2 separate regions of the Homo sapiens genome follow, and region 1 is linked to region 2. The links come from fine-mapping of genetic effects on gene expression. A gene starts in region 2. The other region holds a variant in brackets. All regions are shown on one strand. Distances are between the middles of the regions. Region 1 overlaps HYDIN (HYDIN axonemal central pair apparatus protein). Region 2 holds the start of CALB2 (calbindin 2).

Evidence for each region. PIP is the estimated chance that this variant, and not a neighbour inherited with it, causes the effect.
Region 1: its variant is the best candidate, but not a certain one, in a credible set for the expression of CALB2 in ileum (GTEx, PIP 0.59).

The regions. Positions count from the first base shown.
Region 1 is chr16:71,010,560-71,013,464 of GRCh38, reverse strand. All of the region lies in intron 23 of HYDIN (HYDIN axonemal central pair apparatus protein), which reads left to right. Among named protein-coding and RNA genes, the nearest start is that of VAC14, 210 kb to the right of the region's middle. The variant A/G (reference allele first, on the strand shown) is at 1,655.
Region 2 is chr16:71,357,378-71,360,282 of GRCh38, reverse strand. CALB2 (calbindin 2) reads right to left here and starts at 1,560. Exons shown (of 11, transcript NM_001740.5): 1 at 1,397-1,560. The coding sequence starts at 1,490. RefSeq lists a silencer at 1,532-1,761 and an enhancer at 864-1,829.

The DNA.
Region 1 (2,905 bases), 350 kb after region 2:
GTACAGAGCACTCACTCTATTCTGCAAGGCTCAGCATGTGCTGGTCCCTGCGTTCCTCTCCAGATTTGCTCTGTGCTTCTGGCACTGACCTTTCTGTTTACCCAACACACCGGCCTCTGTCCTGCCCAGTGCTGTTCCTGTCCAACTGCCCCCTTCTTTGCTGGAAGCTCCTCCCCAGCCCCACCTAGCTGTCCCTGCCCCTTCTTCAGACTTCAGCTTCACCATCCTTCTGCAGGGAAGCCTTCTCCAAGATCCATCCTTAGGCCAGATCCCCTGTCATGGACATTGGTACTCCCATCTCCTTGGTGATTCACATCACGCCTCTGCTTATGGCTTGGTGTCCATCTTCCCAGCATCTCTTAATCCCTGTGAGGCCAGCAAGCACACCTGCCCTATCACCTCTGGAGCCCCAGAGCCCAGCACAGTCCCCAGCACAGAGTACATCCTCAAAGGGTGTTTCTTGGTGAATCAGCTGCTCCCACCTGGGTATTTGTAGAGAGAAGGAGATCATTTCATACCTGGCTTGAGATTCCTCTCTCTCAGCTTCCTGGCACCCGCCAAAGAGAAAGGTTCCAGGCATAAATGTCACCTAGAATAGACAAAAAAAAAAAAAAAAAGCCACCTGGTTTCCAGACAGACTGTCTCTGTGTAGGACGTCTGAAAAACATAAACCACATAAAAGTGGCTAAAGGTCACTTTTATCAGACATACACGAACACTAACCTTTCTTATCCAGTTAGGATTCTTCTAAGCCTTACAGTTAGTAAAAGAAACAGAAGTGTAAGAGAGGGTTTTCTTTTTCTTTTATTAGATAGGTCTGAGGTCGCCTAGACACTCTCATGTTCCTTCACAACACATGTACATCTGCGGTGCGTGTGCATGCACATGTGTGCATGTGACTTTGTAGGCAATTCTCACTCATCTATTTAAAGCATCCCTCTTGTTTGAGCTCACATTTTTTTCCCCAAGTTGGCCCTCATGTCACATCTAAGAACAAAGAAAGAAGTAAAATGGACAAGCATGCTAAATAAGTCCTCGGTAAGAGGAAAAGGCAGCCATTGCCTTTGAAGCCTGTGAGTTTGTGCCCGTGACAGGAAGCTGGGTCAACCATGGTGGATGGTGGTCTCTCCCCCTCCCACATCTGCATGTAATGAGAAAGCTGGCAGGAAGTGCCGGGGCTGGCCATTCATGACCACACAGCTGTCGCTGCAGGAGCCACCCTTTTATTAGGTCCATCTCTTCAGTCTAACTGATCAGCTTGATAACAACACAATGCTTCATGGCACCTGTGTGAAAGAGAAGCACAAGGAAACGGTGCACTTGAACCAGCTTTTACCTTTAAGAGGCCAGACTAGAGAGCCAACCGTCAGGGAGCCGAGCAGCCTCTGGCTTGGCTGGCATCTCTGCCCAGTCTCAGAGCGGGGAAGCTGAGGCCGCACTAGAACTTAGAGCATGTGGGCCAAGTGGTCTCCACGGACAGCTTTGGCTCTTCGTTTGTGAATCAGATTATAAATAAATCGAATACAAGGGCCTAAAGGGAGCCAAGTCCTGCAGCAAAGGAACATGTTATTCTCACACTGATTTTTCTATGATGAGCGCCAGCCAGCCAATATGGAGATTGGAAGAGGAGGGTGGAAGGCCTGGAAGGAGGCTG[A/G]AGAAGGAGCCTCATTTTCTGGATGCTTCCATCTATGTCTTCATCATTCCTCAATTTCTGTTGCTTCAAAAGTAGATTTTTTTTTTTAAACAAAGTCTCGCTCTGTCACCCAGGCTGGAGTGCAGTGGCACAATCTTAGTTCACCACACCCTTAAACTCCTGGGCACAAGCCAAGGACTACTGTAGCTGGGACTACAGGCGTGCACCATTATACCTGGCTAATTTCTGGTTTTTTTGTTGTTTTTTGTTTGTTTGTTTGTTTGTTTTGTAGAGACAGGGTCTTTCTATGTTTCCCAGGCTAGTCTCAATCTCCTAGGCTCAAGTGATCCTCCTACCTCAGTCTCCCGAAGTGCTAGGATTACAAGTGTGAGCCACTGTTCCTGGACCAAAAGTGGAACTTTTCTAAGATGTGGTGTGTTAGTGGTAGTTGGAGTCCTGGGCTGCCGAATCAGATGTGGCTGGTTAGAATCCAAGCGCTGTGCTCCTCCTAGCCATGTGACCTTGTGCTGCAGTTGACTTACCTGTAAAATGGTAGTCTAAAAGAGTTGCTGTGAGGATTAAATGAAGTGTATCTTAACATGCATATGTCCCTGAGACATGCCAAGCACTCCCAAATTGGTGGCTGTTTTTAGGTTCTCTAAGGGTCTCTTCCTTTGTACCAAATGCTGCTAAGTGAAGCAGCCCCGGAATCCTATAAGGGCTCCTACGGGTCCTCCTACGGGTCCTCCTACAGGAGCTCTAGGGTCCTTAGACAACCACAGATGGACCCAGATTCCTTTTACTTCCAACAAATGATAGAAAATCCTTTTCTTATACCAGGCTGCATTCATCAAGGCCAAAGCCAGGCTTTAGCCAAGCTTTGCTGTGGCCTGTGTGTGGCTTAAGGGGGCCAGGGCCAGGCAGGCCTCCCCTCCCTACCTGTCACTCCTCCCTGCAGCCAGATAAGCCCAGACCTTGGCTTAGAGGCAGTTCCTTGTTCTGCCCAAGGGCCCAATAAGAAAATAAAAATGTTTAGGGGAAATGTGATTATTTTTTCTTTCAGAATAAGCATTACTTTATTGAATCCCACAAGGGCAGGCACTAAGTACCCTTAAACCACAGCTGTCCCTGGGTAGCTCAGGGTGCTGGTGTCCGAGTCAGACTTTGGCTCAGCCACCTGCCCCATGTGACCCTGCTGGGTGGCTGAGCCTCCCTGAGCCTCGGCTCTTGTGTGAAATGAAGGAGGTTAATAATGGTGCCTTCCACAGAGGA
Region 2 (2,905 bases):
AAACAAAATTTCACCCATTAGCATCCCCAGACATTAACCCCTGCCTCCCCATAGCACTCTGGGCAGAGGATCTCTGCCCAGCCACCTCCACACCCTGCCAAGGCGAGGAAGGGAGGAGGGAAGAATGGAGTGAGGCACACCTGATGCCCCTCTGTTTTCCATCCCCCTTGCTCTCAGACCCCAGGATAAACTCCCTGTCATCCCACACAGATCTGGGACAGGGGCCTGAATGACAGGTGTCAGAGCCCACAAGGCTGAGCCTGGCCCCCTGGGGGGCTGTGCAGTGCAGTGGTTAAGAACTTGTCTTCTGGAGACAGCATCTGTCTTAGCCTTTCCCGTTGGCCTCCCTTTGGGGTCAGCCCCTCCAGGAGCCATTAGCTACCCGAGGGGAGGGTAGCTACAGACACCACAAAATGTCTGAGATGCCAGGATATTTTGGATGCTCATCTTAGCCAGGTCTGTGCGTAGAGAGGGAAATCAGATCACTTATTTTTTCGGAGTAACAGAAACAGAGTCTCTAGTGATATCAAAAGCCTCTAAAGGAGGACCACCCTTTATGCCTGAGTCAGACCACCACAGACACTTGGAATCCCAGTGCTGGGGGCTACCTCCAAAGGTCATTTGGTCTGGCCCTTGCTTTTTGGGTGAGTCAGTGTCAAGACCACACAGAGCAGAGGGTTAGTCACTGAGGCACTTAGGGTGGTGCCTCCCCCTACCCAGAGATGAAGTCACCAAGAGTACCCAGGATTATCACTATGAGGGAACAGGTCTGGGACTGGCACCCCAACGCTGCCCGCCACCACACCCACTGCTGCTGTATTGGGAAACCTACATGCCCACGGCGGCTGGAAAATGGACAAAGGAAGCAGGGGGGTGTTCAGGGCCCCCAATGCCATTTTCCACTCCTGCTCCCAGCCAATCAAGCTGGGGAGGCCACGTTTCCCTTCAGGATCCCCTAATTTATCCCAGCCTCCAGCAGGGTAAGGGGGCTAACCTAGCATTCAACAAAAGGGGAAGAGGAGGAAAGAAATGAGTGGTCTTCTGAGACCTGTGGCTGGAGCAGCTGAAGGCAGGGGAGGTGGGGGAGATGGCAGGGGGAACCTGGAGGCCTTCCCAGCCCAGGCCACCTCTCTGAGAAAGCTCCCACTTGCTCAGAATAAAGGTGCAAATGCGGGTGGGCTCTGGGTCATCTATGTTAGGGAAGAAAGTTACTGACAGTTGTGCCCAGAGCAGCCGGATGTCTCCCAAACCCGGGACCACTACCCCAGCAGGCTCTGCGACCAGACCACCTCCTGAGGGCAAACGTACACCTGCCCGCATTCAGCGCCGCCCCCTGCCCCCTTCACCGCAGGTCCCCTGGGTGCCAATGGGCACAGAAGTTGGGAGCTTTACTGACCGTCTGCGTCAAAGTGCTTCCATATTTCCAGGAACTGGGACGCCGTCAGCTCGGCCAGGTGCAGGTAAGGGGGCTGCTGCTGCGGGCCAGCCATGGCGAGCCGCTCGGAGACCTCAGCCTGCACCGCTCCCGCTCCGCGCCGGCTGGGCTCTGGCACTCGCGCTGGGGTTGTGCGCCACGCTGCCCTTATATACGCTCTGGAGCCTGCGCCTGCGCCCGGCCGCCAGAAGGGGGCGCGCGCGCTCAGGGAATCCGACCGGGGCGCGGCGCGGCGGGGGCGGCGGCGCGAGAGGCTCGGCCCGGACTCCTAGAGGGCCCTTACCTCTGCGCTGAGACCCCTCGGCGCGGGGCCAGGGACACCCGGAGGATTTTCGGTGAAAATGAGGGAGAGGCTGCCCTTGCCTTCCCTCCCGACCGTCTTGAGTACATCCACCACTTATTATTGCTGGCAGTAGCAATAATAATAACAGCAGTAACAACACTAATAGTAATACTAACACAAACTTGACAAATATTTAGCACTCGGGCTTCGGAGTTCACTAGGTCTCTGTCGTGCCTCCTCTCTTCTGATCCTTCCACAGCAGGAAGAGCTGGGACCACTTTTCTGATGAGGTACTTGTGACTTCAGATGATTAAGTGACTGGCCCAGCAAATTAGTGGCAGGGCTACAATTTGAACTCAGCACTCTTTCCACGCCGCACGTGGCTCCTTCATGGGGCTCAGTCTTGCAGAGCAGCCAAGAGTTCTCAAGGCTTTAGTGGGGAGCAGCTGGAATCAGCAGTGCCCCGGGAGGATTCCGATGGAAGTGGTGTGGGGTGGGGGTGGGGGGCTTCCACTGTCTGTTTGGGTCTTCGTATATCCGTCCCCTCGGAGCCTCCCTCCACCCCTGGTACCTGCCTCACGCTGGCCATGCTCTGGGGGGCTTTTAGACATTTGGCCAGGGGGTGGCAGAACTAGATCAACCCGTACCAGGTCTTAACCACGCCCACCTAGGGACATCGTGGGAATGTGCCTGCTCCAGTGGACAGAGAACAACGTCCAACTCTGTCTTGGGGATGTTCTGAGCTGGTCTCAGAGAAAATAGACGCAGCTACTGAGCGCACATCCTGAGGGCAGCAGACAGGACTCCCCAGCAGGGAGCTGGGCCCTCTCCCCATTCTCTCCTGCGGTCTGAGCCCTTAGGGGTCTGTCCTGGCCTTGTGGTGTGGTAAGGTAAGACACATTACCCACAGAGTGACAGCATCATCCCTCCTTTCTCCCCTCTCCTGCTACGGAGTGACTGAGACATGAATTGGCGATCTTTAACATGTGCTAATGAGTGTTAGCTGAACCACCTTCCAAGAGGAGAGTGAAAGGCAAGGAGGTAAGTGAGAATGAAAAGGAGGTCGCTGGGGGAGAGGGGAACCCAGGAGGAGACAGAGAGAGGGTTGTCCCTTGGAGAGAGGGCCAAGCCCAGAGCGAGTCTCAAAGGGGCAATAGAGAATGCAGGTTCCAAAACCACTTGTTCTT